Regions from separate parts of the Homo sapiens genome. Here regions 1 and 3 are each reported to be linked to region 2. Evidence: microRNA targets listed by miRTarBase, many of them from high-throughput screens and not tested one by one. Region 2 holds a microRNA gene; each other region holds the end of a gene's coding sequence. Distances are from middle to middle.
What was found. Region 2 holds the annotated microRNA hsa-miR-4424 (AGAGUUAACUCAAAAUGGACUA, at 3,133-3,154, opposite strand). A microRNA usually pairs through its seed, bases 2 to 8, with sites in the 3' UTR of a target mRNA and lowers its output. Matches are read on the target gene's strand: a 7mer-m8 pairs with bases 2 to 8, a 7mer-A1 pairs with bases 2 to 7 and ends in A, and an 8mer does both.

Region 1: the mRNA of SIKE1 is a reported target of hsa-miR-4424. Seed matches in the 3' UTR shown: 8mer at 1,087-1,094 and 7mer-A1 at 592-598.
Region 3: the mRNA of GRAMD1C is a reported target of hsa-miR-4424. Seed matches in the 3' UTR shown: 8mer at 2,264-2,271.

What each region holds. Positions count from the first base shown.
Region 1 is chr1:114,769,254-114,776,324 of GRCh38, forward strand. SIKE1 (suppressor of IKBKE 1) reads right to left here. Exons shown (of 5, transcript NM_025073.3): 5 at 226-5,119. The coding sequence ends at 5,018. Among named protein-coding and RNA genes, the nearest start is that of SIKE1, 7.9 kb to the right of the region's middle.
Region 2 is chr1:178,673,846-178,680,916 of GRCh38, reverse strand. It overlaps MIR4424 (microRNA 4424), which reads right to left and starts at 3,168; the gene lies at 3,083-3,168.
Region 3 is chr3:113,944,209-113,951,279 of GRCh38, forward strand. GRAMD1C (GRAM domain containing 1C) reads left to right here. Exons shown (of 18, transcript NM_017577.5): 18 at 1,190-2,966. The coding sequence ends at 1,270. It overlaps ZDHHC23 (zDHHC palmitoyltransferase 23), which reads left to right and starts at 3,805. Exons shown (of 5, transcript NM_001320466.2): 1 at 3,805-3,982; 2 at 4,478-4,755. The coding sequence starts at 4,595. RefSeq lists an enhancer at 3,223-3,723 and silencers at 3,438-3,937, 4,288-4,387.

The sequences.
Region 1 (7,071 bases), 64 Mb from region 2:
TGCCTCCTCTTCAGCATTACAGGAGTGACAAAACAAAAAGCATTATCTGCTTTTTCCTATATTAGCAGATAATACCCCTTAATTCACTCTGAAAGTTGCCATGAGATATTATCAGTGAAATAACTGCAGAATGTGAAATACGTCATCTTATAGTTAAATGTGTTTAATATAAATGAGACACAGGAAGGGAGAATTAAAAATTAGTAAGTAAAATATTAGCAAGGATTTTTTTAAAAAATGTATAATTTATTATATATGTATGTATTCCTTAACAATATGTTGTATAACCCAACAATGAAATATACATCAATGAAAATGACAGCTATAAAACAATAAAACTTGTGAATTCTAGAGACATGTTGAGTGAAAAAAACCAAATCCTTAGACTACATAGAGTATGATACAATTTTTTTGAAGTTCAAAAAGAAAGAAAACTATAAAATAAGTCACTTTAGGGATACATATGTATTTTAGGTCTTTCTACATTCGAACAAATCTATTAAAAAGAGAGCGGGGGGGTCGGCAAAGATAGGAGAAGAGCTCAAATAGATAAAATACAAGCACTCATAATGTTATTCTTAAGTTAGGTGATGAGTTATTATGCTTGATAATTTATTTGCATTCCCCATTTACCCTTTTATAAGCATCAAATATTACATTTAAATATAAGTCCCAAATTATGTATAAAGTGTTGATAAAATTTATATCTGCATGGCTGTTCCTAAAACTATGCTTATTTTATCAAGCAGAGTTCTTGGTTTTAGGCAATTCAGGTTAGTTTTAATAACAGCAAAAAAATGATTTTATTAAAAGTAATTCTCAGGATCTCTAGGACAGCCAGCAAACAAGAATTAGAGGTTACAGGCCAGGCACAGTGGCTCACGCCTATAATCCCAGCACTTTGGGAGGCCAAGGCGGGCGGATCACCTGAAGTCATAAGTTCGAGACCAGCCTGGCCAACATGGAGAAACCCCATCTACTAAAAACACAAAAATTAGCTGTGCATGGTGGTGGGCACTTGTAATCCCAGCGACTTGGGAGGCTGAGGCAGGAGAATCGCTTGAACCCAGGAGGTGGAGGTTGCAGTGAGTTAAGACAGTGCTACTGCACTCCAGCCTGGTTGACAGAGCAAGACTGTCTCAAAAAATAAAAATAAAAAAATAGAATTAGAGGTTATCGCTAACTAAATCACTTTTGCTGTACCTCTGTGGAGATGAATGCAGTAGTGTTGTTAATCACCATCTTCAAAGGAATCTGCATGGTTCCCTCCTTCTTTGTATCACTAATTTTAAAATTGAAGGCAGATGTTTCTTCCTTAGCTGCAAAAGGAGGCTGAGAAAACATTACCTGGTACTTTCAAATTCTTTAGGAGGAAGAAATGCTCTGCCTCATTAGGTGAGGGATTCCTTAAACACAGGAGTTAGGATACTGGGCAGCCAAAAGAGAAATGACAGATGTCTGCTACAGCCCATTCTCTTGGCCATTCAATGTCAACACACTCCTTCAGCTAATTCTTCCAAAACTATATTCAAGGGGAAAGGACTTGACAATATAAAGTCACAGACATGTCACAGTCACAGACACTGTTAATTGCTTTCTCAATATTCTTTCTTCTTGCTAATACTGATTTTATTTGGGACAGCTATGTACCCTGCTTTCTTTGCAGGTACCAGTGGCCATTTAACTGGTCAGGCAATTAAGTCAAGGGAAAATCCATTTGGGATTTCTGAGAAAGCTTTGCTTTCCCTCATAAAAGGCGATATATATAGCTGGCACAGGCCATTTCCATTTTTTCTTCCTTGCCTTCAACATGGCCATGACATTTGGCTTGGCAACAACTTTCTAGCAAACACAAGAAAACAGCATGAGGGATGTAAGCCAATATGGTAAGGAGGCAGATTTGAAAGACAGAACTGCACCTTTTCCTGTATATAGTAAGAGTCACTGATTAAACATTATTCCTTTCAGTTGAATCACACATACTCTCAGCTACACCATTCTAGAAAATAATATCTCATTAGTTAAGACTCCATTTATTGAATTCATAATACTTTATAAGCTGTGGTGTTTCTTTTGCACTAATAAAAATAGATTTTGCTAATCAAGAACCACTTGAACTCCCAACAGTATTTGGCATTTAGGCATCTCAAGTTAGTTAGTGATTAAAAATGTGCTTAAGACTCTGTCTGGGTTTGAATCTTGGTTCCAGTTTGGACAAATAACCACCTCCTTGTGCCTGAGTATCTGCAAAATGAGGTACAGTTAAAATGGAGTTTATATAATACAGTACCTGACAGGTAGTAAAGCACTCAATAGATGGTAGCTATTATTGGCAATACCATACATACTTTGCTTTTGTGGCACCAAAGTTTTCTATTTCCCTCCTACCCATTTATTATCTCTATTGAATTCTCAAGTTTAAAGTCCCTCTTCTGTATCTTATACATACTATAATGGATTTATCACACTGCATTATAATTTTATATATATACTTGTCTCCTGTACCAGACTTTTTCATTTTTAAATTCATAAGTACTAATGAAGTGGTTGGCACATAGACTATTTTCTTTTTCATCTTTTAGAGTGCTAACTATTACACAATGGGGCCTAGACTAGATATTTTAAAATCAGTGTCTTTAGGAATTGTTTGAGATGATTAGAATACAAATTCTTGAACTTCATCACCAAGTTTCTATTTCAGTAGGTCAGGGAAGCACATTTTGAAGAACACTAAAATAGACCTTCAATGTTTGAATCCAATTATGCATAAGGTATTAATATAAGAATTATACATAAGATATTGATATAATACTACACTAATATAAGGTACTATTTGTAGAGTTATACACTGCTGAATATACTGTGCTAATTACAAAGTATTTATGACTCTTGTGAGGACCACTTGACAAGGTTGCTATATATATGTAAAAAAACCCTCTGCACTTCCTCATTTGACTTACTACTGAGTAAAATTAGCTTATCTTCTCAAAATGCAGTTTTTGTTAGAAAATATAATTTTGAACTAAGATTTTTGCAAACCAGGCAAGTTCTTCATCCACTCAAGGAGAAACTTTAAAATCCACTTAAAATGAAGAGCATTCCTCCCCGACTCAATTTTCTAACTACATATTATCTTCATAGCATTAACACCAGCCAGAATTTATATTATGTAGAGCACTAAAAGCTTCTTAGACTTGTACCTCAGGCTTTTAATTTTGCAGGGGGAAAAGTTAGTATGTCGATTTATCCTAACACTTGAGATATAAAGAACTTTATAAACAGCTCTAAAGGAACATAAAGCACATAAAGGGACACCATATTATACCTTGATTTGATTACTTCATCATTTTCACTGAAATCTGGCCATGGTAGGTTTGGCCGTGGCTGCCAAATGGTATAGAGTACCTGCCTCTTGAATGGATTTATGGGGTCACTTAAGGTATACTTCGAGGCAGATGGCTGGGCTAATAGTTACTTACTTACTCTTGGGAAATGAAATAAAAAATGCTCACACTTGGAAGTGTTTTTTTTGTCAAATTCTATGCAGGATATCAAACAGAAATTTGAAAAATTCTTAAATGACATATACCTATTCATTAACACCCACTGCTCTAGATGACATCCATTAGTTATTACTGGGATCAGATGCTTTTAGGACATCTTTAAAATATTTTGTTATTTTAACTGTAGTTCTTTATAGCATTACGAAAGAAATATCACTCACATAAAGCACTAACAACTCTTTTTAGTACTGTGTCTCTCCCATGCAGTATGGTGCTTAATGTTACTGGAAAATATTGACAGGTTTAGCATTATTTCAACTAATTCTGGGCAAATCTAAATAGAATAGTATAACATGAAGAAATTTATAAATTTGAAATGTGAGTAAACTGGGACGGGAATGAGTTGATGAGTGAACCCAGTTGACCACTGGGCATTTGAATCTCAATGTTGCCTACACAGCATTATGAGTGTAATAATTTTCATTAGGTAACAAAACTGCTTCCTCACCTTTTTATATAGCTTAAACAAAAAAAAAGAAAAAAGATAAAAAAAAACCCTGCTTCTATGTAAACAAAAAAAAAGAAAGCCAACTATTAGTGCTAGGAATGAAAGACATCCAATCCAAGTAAGTGATGGTTCTTAACTATAAAATGGAAATTGTATAAAAATTAAAATAGAATGTAGAACTAGTAGGATAACATTGAAAAACTGACTACTTATATTTGTTTTTTTTATTTTGTGTGTGTTTTTGGCTGATTATATTTAATAAAAGCTACTTTTAGTATTTGAACTAAGTGCACATGTGTGCATTCACATACACAGGACAAGCTCCTCAGCTTTGAACAATATGAACTTTGGACAATATGACAACTATAGCATCACTGGGCAAAAAAAATAGCTGACTTATTTCCAAGTGTGTTTCCTGGGACTAGCAGTAGGTTCTCTCAAATTAAAAGTAAAGGCACCAGGCTATAAAGTGCCAATTCTTAGCACCAGAGAGACTTAAAATGTCACAGGTGAATGACATTACAAATCAGAGAATCTGCTGATCTAGTTCTGTGGAATTGTATTATTTTTGTCAAATGGAAAAAAAAAATCAAGGTTTATGCCAAATAGATTTAAACAGTTAAATCTTTCCTAAAATTTCCTAGAAGTGTATTTTACAATGCTATGTAAAATAAATTGCTGGCTTATAAAAAATGCTCAAAGTTTCAGAGATGTGAAAAATAACAAAGAACTGAAAACATAGTTTATATAAATCAAGGTCCCAGAAATGAAAATTAAAAGTAGTCTCTTTGAGAAAGGAATGGTGAAATTCAGCATGTAGTATTCACATTAACACATCTGAGAACTGTGGACAGCCAATATTGACTGGAATTCTAAATTGCCACCTGATACCTTTAATTAAGATTAAATCAAATCTGAGGCAAGACACTTAATGGACAGTACTTGAATGGGAAGACAGTAACTTCCTTCCTTGATAGACAATCTCCAGCCATCATTCAGAGTTCAGTTATTTGATGGCTTGGGAAGCAGTGTCCATTGAGTTTTCCTTTCTGGCTTGAAGAGACTCACTGCTGATGGACAATAATTCTCGAAGTTCCTTATTTTCAAGCTGGAAAAAAAAAGGCATGTTTATTTCTGGTATTTTTACTGTCCAACTGCATTACAACAACACATTATTTTGAGCCAGGAGCAGAAAACATTATTTTAATTTTAAAAAATTTATGGAAACAAAAAATCCACTAGTTGAGAATTTCCTTAAATACTACTTTATTCATTTAACAAACATTTACATGTAGGATGTAGGCAATGATACTCTTTTGTAGTAGTAATTTACTGAGTAATTTCTATATACCAAGTGTTAGGATTACAAAGGAGAAACAAAAAACAAGGTCCTCTCCATTTAAGGAATTCACTGTTATATTCTTCTTGGTTCCCACAGTTTTACTATTATTTCTTTTATTTAAAAAATTCCTAATAATCGTTTCACTCTGATTAATCTCCTCTCCTGGATATCTTACAGTTCTAGAGAAATGGAAGGAAAGGGGGAAAGAAATTACTTATTGAGCATGTAGCTGGGTACTACTTGGGTGCCCTGTATATGTTATCTCACAATAATCTGTAGGGTAGGTATCATTGCCTACATCCATATATTTCAGATGAGGATACTCTGGCTCACAAAATTCCTAAAAGTTGTCCAAATTCAGACAACTTGGATGTGGTATTGCTGGGGTCTGAATCTGGTGGTCGTGTATTTTCTACTTGAAGTATTAAGGTAGAATTTGCCCCACATTTCCTTAGGGCTGTTTCCGTAAGTGAGGTAAATCGGGGATAAATAGAAGGTCATGCTATCATTTCACTAGCTCCTAATTCCTACTTGGGACCTGTCACTACCTTTGATTTCTAGAGAGGGTAGCTTCTGCTCTTCATCCTTATCCTCTGCAGAAAACTCTGGTAAACCAAAGCATTTTTAGCTTCACCAAGATGTGCGGAAGTCCCAGCTAGAGTAACTAAGAGATTAGAGCCTGTGGTCGACGAATCTTCTACCACATGAAGTGCTTCCTTCGGTATTTGTATCTGTCTCCTAGCATTTACATATTATTTAATATCATATAATACTAGGGTTATCCCTTCCACTAGACTCTGGGCAGGTATCTGTTTTTTTCTCTCTGGTATTTCTCAAAGGCCCCAGGACAGCACCTTGTAATAAGCAGCATTCAAACCATTCACTGAAATGCTTTGCTTTTTTTTTTTTTTTTTTGAGACAGGGTCTCACTCTGTCACTCGGTTGGAGTGCAGTGGCATGCATGATCGTGGCTCACTGCAGCCTTGACTTCCCAGGTTCAGGTGATCCTCACACCTCAGCCTCTGAGTACCTGGGATTACAGGTGTGCACCACCACACCTGGCTAATTTTCTGTATTTTTTGTAAAGACAGGGTTCCGCCATGTTGCCCAAGCTGCTCTTGAACTCTTGGGCTCAAGCAATTCACTTACCTCAGCCTCTCAAAGTTGAAATGTTTTTCCTTAACAATTTTATGAGCACACTAATACCCCGAACTTTTTTTGTAACATATTCCTATTCTAATCAAAATATGACATAAACATAGCTTTTAAGAAATCAAGACTACAAGGCTTATACAAGCAGTTCTTTGGCTTTGTACCCCAAATGCAACCACTTTTAACACTTTTATCTATTTCTTTTGGTATTTAATTCTGTAATTCTAAATAATATGCTTATACTGCTATTTCCTGATCATCAATTTTAGACATTATCTACTTCACTTCTTATTATGGCAGATGAAGGATTTTATCTCACATATAACTTCTCCCCTCCACTCCCTCTACCTTCCCATATGATAATACCTCAAGTTCTTGCCAATACATAGTTGGTATTTCCATTGATTGCTGTTTACTATATTTCCTTTCTTCAAAAGGGTATAAAAGGGTATGAAGGAGGAGTTTTAATTTTAAATCATGAGCACACAGAAAACATCAATATATTACAGTGATGGGATAGTGATGGCATATCTTCCAGACTCGGAAAACTATGAAATACTGTGAAC
Region 2 (7,071 bases):
GAAACTAAGCAGCACAGTGGCATCGCCAGAATACCTGTATCAGCTGTGAAACAATGGTAACGACAAAGGAAGCAAATGTTTTTGCTTCTCTGTCTACAATGCTGCGTTTCAATTAAAAAGTTACAACTTTACACTGTATTTCTTTTTCTTTTTCTTTCTTTCTTTTTTTTTTTGAGACAGAGTTTCGCTATTGTTGCCCAGGCTGGAGGGCAACGGCGCGATCTCAGCTCACCACAACCTCCGCCTCCCGGGTTCAAGCGATTCTCCTGCCTCAGCCTCCCAAGTAGCTGGGATTACAGGTGTGCCACCACGCCCAGCTAATTTTGTATTTTTAGTAGAGACGGGGTTTCTCCATGTTGGTCAGGTCTCAAACTCCCGACCTCAGGTGATCCACCCACCTTGGCCTCCCAAAGTGCTGGGATTACAGGCGTGAGCCACCACGCCCAGCCTGTATTTCTTTTTTTTAGGTGAGAAGAAACATCAAAAGAAGTTGAAGGACCAGGAAGTGGGTCCTCTAGGGATGAGGGGGCATCTGCTGGCTTTTTAAAGTGTTTCCTCCAGATTAATCTGCTTCATTGACCATGGTTTTTGCCTTAGAAGTCTCTCTTGATTTTATAAACAGACATGATTTCTTGTTCTATTATGAATGCACACTGCTCAAATCCTTCAATAAGCTCATCACACATTTGCACCATGTCATCTGTAGGCACTTTTTCTGCAGTGTTAACAACATCATCTTCGTCATCACTATGATCACAATCACCTTGATTCAGAACCATTTTCGCTATTTTACCATAAATCTGTGAATGAACAACTGGAGCCTCGGTATTGATGTTAAAAAGTCTTCAATATTCACTTCTTCCAGCTTACTTAGAGACTCCAAAAGTATATTTTTTGCATATGTAAGGAGGTCAGGCATCATTTTATTCTAACTTGACATATGGAATCCTTTAGAGTCACCATCTTGTTTATCATCATCACTGAACATAGTTGTAGGACACAGGTTATGCCAGGCCAGTGACTTTAGTCACTGTGTGCCAAGCATTGCAAAAGCATATATAGTATACATAGCTAAACTCCTTTTGAAAACCTTCCACACCCACACCTCTGTCCACTGCTGTTAGAATGCTGTTTAAGAAAGTGTTTTTATATTTACTCTTATCTAAGAATTCCCTGGTCATGTGGTTGAAATAATGGAGTCACATTTGGGGGAAAGTACGTGGCATAAACATTATTTTTGGTGAGAATTTCAGCTGGCGGATGAGAATGAGCATAACAGTTGTCAAGGAATAATGAAATCTTCCAATTGCCATCCAGCCCAGCTTCCCAGCAGTGAGCACATGCCACTGGTACAAAATGTTTGTGAAATCAATCAGAAAAGATATTCCTGGTGATCCATGCCTTTTTCTTAATATAATCATAGATTGGTATGAAATTCACTTTTTGGAAACAGTGAGGATGCAAGCTTTTCCCTACCTCAGCAAGTTTACACTTATGTAACTTATGCATACATGCTGCATTGGAACATCCCAGCATAGTTATTCTGTCCTTGGCATCCTTAATTCCTGTAGGAGCTGTCCGATTAGCAGTGGTCAGTGTCTTTCTGGGGCAACAATGCCAAAATAGCGATGTCTCATTAGCATTATTGCTATAGTTTGGATGTTTGTCCCCTCCAAATCTTATGTTGAAGTTTGATCACCAGTGTTGGAGGTGGGAACTAATGGGAGGTGTTTGAATCGGGCAGTGTGGGGCGGGGGTTTGCAGATCCCTGGTAAATAGATTCATGGCTTCCCTGAGGGGAGGAGGCATGAGTGGGTTCTCACTCTATTAGAGAGAGCTGATTGTTAAAAAGAGCCTGGGACCTCCCCAACCCCTGCTTCTTCTCTTGCCATGTGATTTCTGCACAAGATGGCTCTCGCTTCACTTTCCACTATGAGTGGAAGCAATCTGAGGGCCTCACCAGAAGCAGATGCTGGCACCGTATTTTTTGTGCAGCCTGAAGACCCATGAGCCAAATAAACCTCTTTACTTTGTAAATTCCCCAGCCTCAGGCATTCCTTTATAGCAACACAAAATGTACTTAGACAATTACAAGCTTGTTCTGGCATCAGATTTTCATCAGTGATGACCTTGACAAATTCATCAATGAATTTCTCTACTGCTTTGTGATGAGCAGATGCTTTACCACAAAAAAACTTCAAAAATTTAATACCATATCTTTTTAAAAATTTCTGCAACCAGCCTATTGAATATTCACAGCTCCCTCCAATTTTCAGTTCACTGTGATAGATGTTTGCTTGTTTCATGATCAGCATACCATTAAGTGGCATGTGTTCACTGCAATGCTGACAGATCCACTCTTTCAATACATAATCGAGATCTTCATTTTTAGCTTTATGCTTTTCCATTTTTCATAACTTCTATTCATCACTTTAAGCATAGAACTTCAACAGCTTATCCTTCTGTTTCTTCAGGTCTTATATGGTGGCCATTCCAACACAATACTCTTCTATAAGACATTTCACACTTACACTGCTGTCCAGTTTCTCCAATAGCTTGACTTTCTTTCTTTCTTTTTTGTTGAAACAGAGTATCTCTCTGTCTCTCAGACTGGAGTGTGCAATGGCGCGATCTCTGCTCACTGCAACCCTCACCTCCCAGGTTCAAGCAATCCTCCCCTCTCAGCCTCCCAAGTAGCTAGGATTACAGGTGTGCATCACCATACCTGGATACTTTTTTTTTTTTTTGGATTTTTAGTAGAAACATCATTTCACCATGTTGGCTGGGCTGATCTTGAACTCCTAACTTCAAGTGATCTGCCCACCTTGGTCTCCCAAAGTGCTAGGATTATAGGTGTGAGCCACTGTGCCTGGCCTGCAACCTCCTTCTCCCAGGCTCAAGCCATCCTCCCACCTCAGCTTCCCACCATCATGCCTTACAAATTTTTGTAATTTTTTTTTTTTTTTTGATGGAGTCTTGCTCTGTCACCCAGGCTGGAGTGCATTGGTGTGATCTTGGCTCACTGCAACCTCCACCTCCCAGGTTCAAGTGATTCTCCTACCTCAGCCTCCAGAGTTTCTAGACTACATCACACACAGAGTTAACTTGAAATGGACTAACTAGTGGAAAAATTAGTCCATTTTGAGTTAACTCTGTGTGTGATGTAAGATAATGGTCCAATTTCATTATTTTGCATGAGAATATTCAGTTTTCCTCATGCCATTTATTGAAGAGATGATCCTTTCCCTATTATGTATTCTTAGTGCCTTTATTAAAGATTAGTTGACTATATATGCATGTAGTTTTTCCTGGGCTCTCTATTGGTCTATGTGTCTGTTTTTATGCCATTGCCATACTGTTGATTCCTATAGTTTTGTAATATTATTTGAAATCAAGAAATGTGTGCCTCTACCTTTGTTCTCTTTGGCCATTCGGGGTCTTTCATGGTTCCACATAAATATTCAGATAGTTTTTTTCTATTTCTGTGAAAAATGTCATTGGAATTTCATTGAGATTGCATTGAATCTGTAGAGCACTTTGGGTAGTATGGCTATCTTAACAATATGAATTCTTCCAGTCCGTGAACACAGAATTTCTATCTTTCCATTTTATTTGTGTCTTCTTTCATTTCTGTCATCAATGTCATAATTTTCCGTGTACAAATCTTTCACTTCCTTGGTTTAAGTATTTTATTTTTTCTCATGCTATTGTAAATGGGATTGTTTTCTTCTTTTTCAGATAGTTTGTTATTAGTGTATAGAAATGCAACTGATTTTTGTATGATGATTTTGTATCCTGGCACTTTACTGAATTTTAAAATTATTTCCAACAGTTGTTTTGGAGGAGTCTTTAGGGTCTGCCACATATAAGATCATGTCATCTGCAAACAGAGACAATTTCACTTCTTCCTTTCCTATTTGGATGGCTGTTACTTCTTTTTCTTGCTTAATTGCTCTGGCTAGAACTTCCAGTACTATGTTAAATAGAAGTAGCGAGAGTAGGCATCCTTGTCTTGTTCTTGATCTTAGAAAGGAAGCTATCAGTTTTCCACCAGTGAATATGATGTTACCTGTGTGTTTGTAATATATGGCCTTTATTATGTTGAGGTACCTTCCTTCTATACCTAATTTGTAGAGAATTTTTATCATAAAAGGATGTTAAATGCTTTCTCTGCATCAATTGAGATGATCATATGATTTTTACCTTTATCCTGTTAATGTGGTTTATTACATTTATTGATTTGTGTATGTTGAACCATCCGTACATACCAAGGATAAATTCCACTTGATCATAGTGTATGCTCCTTTTAATGTGCTGTTGAATTCAGCCAGTTAATATATATTTTTTTAATTTAACATTTTTTTTTGAGACAGAGTCTCACTCTGTCACCCGGGCTGGAGGGCCATTGTGCAATCTCAGCTCACTGCAACCTCTGCCTCCCGGGTTTAAGTGATTCTTGTGCCTCAACCTCCCAAGTAGCTGGGACTTCAGGCATACATCACCTTGCCCAGCCAATTTTTGTTTTGTTTTGCTTTTTGAGACAGAGTCTTGCTCTGCCACCCAGGCTGGAATGTAGTGATGCAATCTCGGCTCACTGCAGTCTCCGCCTCCTGGGCTCAAGCTATTCTCATGCTTCAGCCTCCCAAGTAGCTGGGATTACAGATGTGCACCACCACACCCAGCTAACTTTTCTAATTTTAGTAGAGACATGGTTTCACCATATTGGCCAGGCTAGTCTCAAACTCCTGACTTCAGGTGATCCACCCACCTCGGCCTCCCAAAGTGCTGGGATTACAGGTGGGAGTCACCGCACCTGGCCCAATTTTTGTATTTTCAGTAAAGACCGGGTTTCACTATGTTGGCCAGGCTGGTCTAAACTCTTGGCCTCAAGTGATCTGCCCACCTTGGCATCCCCAAGTGAGCCACTGTGCCTGGCCTCAGCCTGCAAAAATTTTATTGAGAATTTTTCCATCTGTGTTCAGTATAAGCCTGTAAGTTTCTTTTCTTTTAGTGTTCTTATCTAACTTTGATGCAAGGGTAATACTGGCCTTGTAAAAAGAGTTTGGAAATGTTCCTCCCTCTTGATTTTTTTTTTTAGAAAAGTTTTAGAAGAATTGGTGTTTATTCTTCTCTGTTTGGTGGAATCCACCTAATCTTTTGTATTTTTGTGGTATCAGTTGTAACTATTCTTTTGTCATTTCTGATTGTAATTTTTTGAGTCATCTTTCTTTTTTTCTTGGTTAGTTTACTAAAGGTTTGTCAATTTTGTTTATCTTTTTAAAAAATCAACTCTTAGTTTCTTTGATCTTTTAAATTGTCTTTCTGTTCTCTATTTCATTTACTTCTGCTCTAATTTTTGTTATTTTTCTCCCTTCTGCTAACTTTGGGCTTAGTTTGTCTTTTTTTTTTTTTGAGACAGAGTCTCACTCTGTTGCACAGGCTAGAGTAAAGTCGCACAGTCTCAGCTCACTGCAGCCTCTGCCTCCTGGCTTCAAGGAATTCTCCTGCCTCAGCCTCCTGAGGGTGCCTGCCACCAGGCCTGGCTAATTTTTGTATTTTTAGTAGGGATGGGGTTTCACCATGTTGGCCATGAACTCCTGACCTCAAGTGATCTGCCCACCTCGACCTCCCAAACTGCTGGGGTTACAGGCATGAGCCACTGCACCTGGCTGTGAGATCTTTCTTTTTAAAATTTAGGTATTTATCTCTATAAATTCCTCTGTTAGAACTGCTTTTGTTGCATCCCATGTTTGGTATGTTATGTTTCTATTTCTGTTGGTTTGAAGACAGTTTTTTAAATCTTCTTTGACCCACTGGTTGTTCAAGAGCATGTTGTTTAATTTCTATTAATACTATTTGTGAATTTTCCAATTTTCCTTGTTATTAATTTATAGTTCTATATTATTGATTTCAGGAAAGATACTTGATGTGATTTCAATCTTCTTTAATTTGTTAAGACTTGTGCTATGGCCTAATATATGATCTATCCTAGAGAATATTCCATTGCTCTTGAGAAAAATGTGAAATCTGCTGCTGTTGAGTGGAATGTTCCATGTGTGTCTGTTAGGTCCATTTGGTTTATAGCATTATTCAAGTCTACTGTTTCCTTATTGATTTTTTGTCTGAATGATCTATCCATTGTTGAAAGTGGCATATGGCCAGGCATGGTGGCTCATGCCTGTAATCCCAGCACTTTGAGAGGCCGAGGCAAGCAGATCACCTGAGGTCAGGAATTTGAGACCAGCCTGGCCAACATGGTGAAACCCTGTCTCTACTAAAAATACCAAAATTAGCTGGGCATGGTGGCACAATTCTGTAATCCCAGCTACTTGGGAGGCTGAGGCATGAGAATTGCTTGAATTCGGGAGGCCGAGGTTACAGTGAGCTGAGATCACACCACTGCACTCCAGCCTGGGTGACAGAGCAAGACTCTGTCTCAAAATAAAAAATTAAAAAAAAAAAACAAAAAACAGTGGCATACTGAATTCTCCTATTATTGTATTGCTATCTATTTCTCTCTTTAGTCTTGTTAATATTTCCTTTATGTGTTTAGGTTCTCTGACATTGGGTGCATATATATTTATAATTTTTATATTCTCTTGATGAATTGACTCCTTTATCATTGTTTAATGACCTTCTTGGTTTCTTGTGACAGATTTTGACTGAAAGTCTATTTTGGCTGATATAAGTATAGCCACTTCTGCTCTCTTTTGGTTACTATTTGCAAAGGATATATTTTCCCATCCATTCACTTTTAGCCTATGTAGGCTAAAGTGAGTCTATTGTAGTCAGTATATTATTGGTCTTGTTTTATTTTTTAATTTTTTTTTTTATTTTTTGAGATGGAGTTTTGCTCTTGTTGCCCAGGCTGGAGTACAATGGCATGATCTCGGCTCACTGCAACCTCCGCTTCCCGGGTTCAAGCCATTCTCCTGCCTCAGTCTCCTGAGTAGCTGGGATTACAGGCATGTGCCACCACGCCCAGCTAATTTTGTATTTTTAGTAGAGATGGGGTTTCTCCATGTTGGTCAGGCTGGTCTCAAACTCCTGACATCAGGTGATCCGCCTGCC
Region 3 (7,071 bases), not on the chromosome of region 2:
TCCACCTGGCAGAAGGGACTGAAGGACAAAAAAGGGGACTATTTAGTTCCCTGAAGCTCTTTTATAAGAGCACTAATCCATTCATAGGAGCCGTCATGACCTAATCACCTCCCAGAGGCCACGTCTCTTCATGCTGTTGCATTGGGGATTCAGTTTGAACGTGAATTTTGAAGGGGACACAAATGTTCAGATAGCAGCAACTCCCAAGTCCGTATCTCTCACCTCGACCTGAGCTCTAGACTCATACAGTCACTTGCCTACTTGGCATCTTCACCTGGATGACTAACAGGATTCCCAAACTGATTATGTCCAAAACAGAAGTCAATTTTCCTCTAATCCAAAACCTAATTCTCTAGTGGGTCTCATTTCAGAAAATGATGCTACCATCCACCAGCTGCTCAAGTCAAAAACTTAATAAAATATCTAAGTATATATTTATGTATGTGATTATTTGTTTTATTAATAGTTCTGGATCCCTGACTAGTCTGTAAGCTCCATGAAGGACAGGACAGTGCCTATTTGGTTCTCCATTGTATATCCAGTGCTTAGAACACTGCCCAACATGTGATAGGCAAGCAACAAATATTTGTTGAATGAATACAAAAAAAGAGTAAGACATAATTCCTGCTCTTGAGTTGCACACAATTTTCTTAGAGAAATGAGATGTCCAGGTGTATTGTTAATGACAAAGATTACAAAATTCAGTGTCAAAGTGTTAAGTAGTAAGGATAATGCTTTGGGAGTTTATAGGCAGAATGACTGGGGAAAACTACATGAAGAGTGTGAATATGAGTAAGTTTTAGGTGAAGAACATGAGGATGAGAGCATGCAAAGGCACTGAAGCAAACTTGAGTTGTTTAGGGGATAGTGAGGAGACCACTGCAACTTCAGAAATCTTTTAGGAAAACGAGTCTGTCACTACGCTTAATTTGATTAATGGACCTATTGGGAGGTAGACTATGTAGCAGTAGGAAGAAGTACAATACTCCAGCAAATGGGAAGAACTCTGTAGCAATCATACTGATAGATACCCCAAAGAATCAGGTATTTTGTATTTAACGTTTTATTTGGGCATCAGTATAAACAAAACTATATTAAGTGTCACTGTAAATTTTGGGCATAAAAAACAGAAATTTTCAAATCTGATTAGAAAAATTAATCTGATTTTGAAAATTAACTTTGTTTACAGCTGAAGAGCTCACTCATTATGCTTCAGAAAACGTTTGATCTACTAAATAAGAATAAGACTGGCATGGCTGTTGAAAGCTAGTGATCTGAAGGACTAAAACCGCAGAGATACTTGGAACTTAAAGAAAATACCTGGAAGAAAACCAGACGAATGAAGGATTTTGGCATAGAACATTTCTATGTTTTTTCATTATTGAGATTTCTAATATGAACATTTCTTTCAGTAACATTTATTTGATAATTAGTTTCTGCTGGCCTTAATAATCCATCCTTTCACTTCTTATAGATATTTTTAAGCTGTGAATTTCTTCAGTGAACCATGAAATATATTATAGAACTGAATTTCTCTGATACAAAAAGAAAATGACACACCCTGAATTGAGTGGTATGGTCTCATTTCTACAGTGAAGTCTGATGCTTTGTTAGCACAGAATCCGTACATGTCCAATAGGTCGCTTTTGTAACTGAGATAAGACCAAGAGGATAAACAGGACAATATAAGAAGAAACCTCTATGTCATTACTGATTTTAAAGGTTCTGTTTTCAGGCATATAACATTTCCAGGTTTGTGTACTGTAAAGATTATAATGTCTTCATTTATTTAGCATGCAAATTTAATAGTCAAACTTTTTGAATCTGCATGTTGATGATGATTATCAGAAAGGGTCTTCTGCCATGCTGTATCTTTATGAAAGAAATAGTTGTTTTTTCTTAAGGTAACTATCAGAGGTGGGATTATCTTGCCTCCTCACTTAGAATACCAACAGTCAAAAGGAAGAACCATCCTCTGAGTTTTAAAAACCAGAAGGTTATGTTAAAATCTGGGCATTTAGTGACAGATCAAATGCATACTTGAACTAAGATTGGCTTCAGCTTAGCAGTCTTTCATGGTGGAAGTGACACATCTGGTTGAAAATAATTTGTGTATTTTCAGTAACCATGTATGGCTTCCTTCTTTATGTATGTGTGTGACTTGTTTTGATTGGTAAGTTATAAGCCAGACATAGATTTTAGCTCTTTAATAAAAACTTCAGGGGCACGTATGTCCCAGTACAAGTGTACTGACTATCAAGTTTTAACTCAGATGCAAGCTTTGGCTCTTTCATAAAAAGTTTTTATGCATATGTGTCTCCATACAAGTGGCTCATTAAAATAAGAACTTTGTAAACTGACTTAAAATCAGATATTTTTTCAAGAGTTAGGGAAAGTTGAAGTGTTTTACTGTTTTGTCTCTTGAGCCCTTTCTCTGGGGAAAAAATACATATCCATCTATCTATCTATATATAAACTGTGTATACATTCTTACTGTTTGAACAACTATTGCCTTTAATTAAATGTTTCATTTTTCTCCAGAGTCCCCAAAGCCACATGGCATTATTATAGTCATTTTTGAGATGCCTGTAGAGAATGAAAGTATTGACTCCGTTAGAGGGAAAATGGGTTTCTCTGGGTGAATTCCAACGAAGCATACCTAGGGGTAACAGTGAACCTACCTGGGTTTGTTTTGTTTTGGTAAGGATTTATGTAGTGTCTGGCTGTAAGCAAGAATGAGTGGATTATAAACTTGAAGATTTCTCTGTTAAAGTCACAAAAATGATCGACAAACAATATTTTTGTGATGTTTATTTAAACGTTGTATTTTATAACATACTTCAAGGAAGAGTATCGAAGTAAGTTGCTTTATAAATTAAGACTAAATTCGTATGGATGCAGAATTCAATTAATAAAATTTGAGCCTGTTACGTAAATTGAATATTAATAAAATTGAAAATTTCTGAGTTGTAGTTTTTCTTCTTTTTCTACTTAAAAACAAAACTAGAAAGCCTGCGGTAGTGAAACGTGTACATGGGCCCACACTCTTTAAAGAAATTTTGTGCAATAATAAAACCCAAAAAGGACTCTCATCTCAGGGCAGTTTCATCTCAAATACACAGACGACTGGAACAAAAGTACTAGCGAGGCCTGCTGGTCCAATGTAAAGGCTGCTAGCCAGAAATCATGAAACGAACAGGTTGCTAAATGAACAGATCCGGCAGCAGTGATGGGCCTTTAAGAGAAGGTCAGCGAAACTGGGGGAGGTACTTGGATAACATTTTGCGGTGGAAAGCTCCCTCACCGCCTGTTGCCGGAGTCTGAATGAAGGCTGGCGGCTCCACGGTCTCACGTAGTTCGGAAATCCTCCGGGTTCCCGGGTTTCCCGTATTTCCGTCTCCGCACCTCGTCCGCACCCCGGGGCTCCGGAGGCTGTCCCACCGGCGCGCCGCCCGCAGGCACCGGCGGCGCCCGGCTGCCGCCTCTGGGGCGGGGCGGGGCGTGGCGTGGCGGGGCAGGCCGGAGGTGCGGGACCCACCTCCTGCCCCTGCCTCCTGGACGCGCTCTCGGGAGCCGATTTTCCCCTTCCCGGCGCCAGGGCCGCGGGCCAGGAGGAGGAGCCTCGCCCGCGGGCACCGCGGGGAGGCGGGCGGCGCACGTGCGGACAGGCGGGGAACCCCGGCGCCGGGGGCGGGGCACCCGGAAGCGCGCGTGGACCTGGCGCACCGAGCCGGGCGGGCGGAGGGGCGGTTGGGACGGCGCGGGGAGGCGGGCGCGCCGCCCGGGCCGCGGCGGGCTGTGGTCACAGGTGGGCGGCTGCGGCGAGGGAGCGGCCGAGCGGAGCCCGGGTCCCGGAGACTCCTGCCGTCACGCCCGGGGCTCCGCGTAGCAGAGATCGGGAGACGCGTCTGTGCCTCCGGGGAAGCCGACCCATCTCCCCTCCGCCTCTTTGGCTGCAGTTGCACCTCCGGCCAGAGGGCAGGTAACTTCCCTTCCAAGGTCATTCTCCTGGCGGGGTGGTGCGCGAGGCCCGCCCACGTCCTCCGGATTGGCGGGGGCGGGAGAGGCGCACCCTGCAAGGGGCCCGACCAGTTGGGCTGGACCGCGACCCCTGAGCACTGCCAGGGAGCCTGGTGTGTCAGCCGCTGCTAGCGGGCATATGCTTCGCCTTTCCCTATAGCCCCGAGGCTGAGTTCCCACCAGCGCCCAGGCTTGGAGCGGAGACCGCTCGGCCCTCCCAGCCTGCACCCGCAGGTGAGCGCAACCGCCCGCGCCCCGGCTGTCCCGGACGCGTGGTCGGCTGTCGCCATAGGAACGGCTGGTGCCCAGACGGCGCCTGCCCAGGCTGGGAAGGGGCGGTGAAGGCAGCTCAGACCTCCAAGAACCCTGGAGCCCCCTGTGTGGCCAGGCGGAGCCACAGAAGCCTGATGAAAACGGGACCCCCTCCCCCTCTCTCTTCTCATTTTTGATTGCTCAGGCGTTGGAGGTTAAGCAGAGAGAGAGAGGCGTGGACCTATTTACGAGATGTAAGTTGTGTTCTTTCCACCTTTACCTTCTGAGGGCTTCTTACGCCTCATGGTGACAGGTGCAAATCATGACACAGAAGGGCAGTATGAAGCCTGTGAAGAAAAAGAAAACCGAAGAACCTGAATTGGAGCCCCTGTGCTGCTGCGAGTACATAGATCGGAATGGGGAAAAGAACCACGTGGCTACTTGTTTGTGTGATTGTCAAGATCTGGATGAAGGGTGTGATCGGTAAGAACAGAGCATTTCTTGACGCTGGCCCCATCACCCTTCTGAGAACTGCCATGTGTACTTTCAACCTAGCCACCCAGAATGCTAGAATTTGCTCTTGATTCTATTTCCAAGCATCTAAAATGAGAGTTGGCTTCTGTGTCAAGTGTGAGGATTTTAGAAAGATGGATTACGCAGTAGTGCACAGCTGTCTGTCTGCTCTGTTTTATAGGATATTATTTTTCGTTTAAAGAGAGATGAGGGAGAGAACAGGCAGTTTAAAGGGATAGTAGGCAAGTTAGTATAAAATAAAATGCAAGCCAGCAGAATCTGTAAGTTTAAAATGAACACAATAGTTCCAGAAAGTTCCTGCCTTCTCAGAGGTCTCAGCATTTAGAGACTGACTACTTGGGACTGGGTGGCACCTGACCACAGAGGGCCTTGTGGGTTGAAATTTCATTTTCCTGCTGTTAGTACTGGTCTTGCCCCTTGTTTCTGGGGAGGAACTCCAGCCAGAAGGCATGTATCTCCCCTGGATTCACAGTTTTCAGTGCGACCAGCAACACTCTTGATTGATCATACTGTATTTGGCTTTTATTTTCCAAGTGATGGAAATTACTATCCAAAAAGAGAATTTTTAACATCACTGAAAAAATTTGGTGTCGGACAGTGAATAATCTGGTTTTAATCCATTTTCTGAGTAATTATATATTTAAAAATCACTGTCAATGGAAGTCATAATGTGGGAAGGATAGGGATGTTGGAAACTTGCTTTTCCCATTAATAATTATTTCTGGTTAAAAAAGTCATTGCAACTGCCAATTTGTTGACTTAGAACTTGATACATTAATACAGCCATGAAAAGCATTCCCTGGGGTCTGCAGTCTAGTACCAGCCTTGACTATTAAAAACCCAGTGAACCCTTTGTCGTTCTTACTTGACAGTGTACTGTGTAGTCTTTTTTATGGATGTCTTTGAATATAGGTTCTTTAGATTTAGTCTGAAATCTATACTGAGAAAATAGAGCACTTTGCACTAATGAATGGAGAAATGATGCTGTTTCCATAACCACCATCACTCAAGACCGCAGCTCTTCCATTAACCTTGCTAACTCTTCCTCCCTCCTAGCCCTGGAGACCTTGGCTGTCCCCTGAGGCATCTCCTCTGCTCTCTCTGTACCCCTCTCCTCTGTGTTTCCACCGTGCCTGCTGCTCTGTATGATTCCCAATTAGTTATCTCTAAGTTCTAGTCTTACCTTTAAAAATTGTCTAAAATCAAAGTTACCTTTCCTTAAACTCTACCTTTTCTTACTAGCCTGTCTTAATTTGTTCAGGCTGCTATGATAAAATAAATACCTGAGACTGGGTAATTTGTAAACAATATACATCTATTGCTCACAGTTCTAGAGGCTCAGAAATCCAAGATCAAGGCACTGGCAGATTCAGTGTCTGGTGAGGGCCCTTTTCCTCATAGATGACACCTTCTTGGTGTGTCATGACATGGCAGAAGGGGTGAATAAGCTCATAGGGCTCTATTATAAGGGCACAAGTCTCATTCATGAGGGCTGTGCCTTCATGACCTAATCACCTCCTTAAGGTCTCACCTCTGAATACTATTGCATTGGGAATGAGGTTTCAACATAATGAACTTTGGAGGGACACAGATACTTCCTGGCTCCCTAAAATTTATGTCCTTCTCACATGCAAAATACACTGATTTCATCCTAATAGCCCCAAAAGTCTTAGCTCATCCCAGTGTCAATTCAGAAGTCTAAGTCCAGAGTCTGGTCTGAATATCATCATCCAAATCAGATATGGATGAGTTTCAAGATACGATTCATCCTGAGACAAGTTCTCCTCCACATGTGAGCCTGTGAAATCAAACAAGTTAGGTGCTTCCACAATACGATGGTAGGACATGCATAGAATAGACATTCCCATTCCAAAAGGGAACAACAGGAAGAAAGGAGTGTTACTGACAGGTCCTAACCCAGTGGGGCAAACAATGTTAAGCCTTAATAAGGCTTGAGAATAATCTTGGACTTGATGTCCTGCCTTCTGGACACACTGGGTTGGCGGTTGGGCCCCCAAGGCTCTGGGTGTCCCCGCCACCACAGCTTTGTTGCGCACAGCCCACACTGCAGCTCTCATGGGTTGGAGTTCCTACAGGTGCCTCCAGCTCTCCCAGGCTGGAGTTGTATGCTTGTGGCTCTACGGGGCTCTTGGGGGTGACCCTGTCCCCACAGCTCCAAGCAGGCATTGCCTCAGTGGGGTCTCTCTGTAGTGGCCCCACCACAATGACAGCTCCACTGGGCAGTGCCCTAGTGGGGGCTCTCTG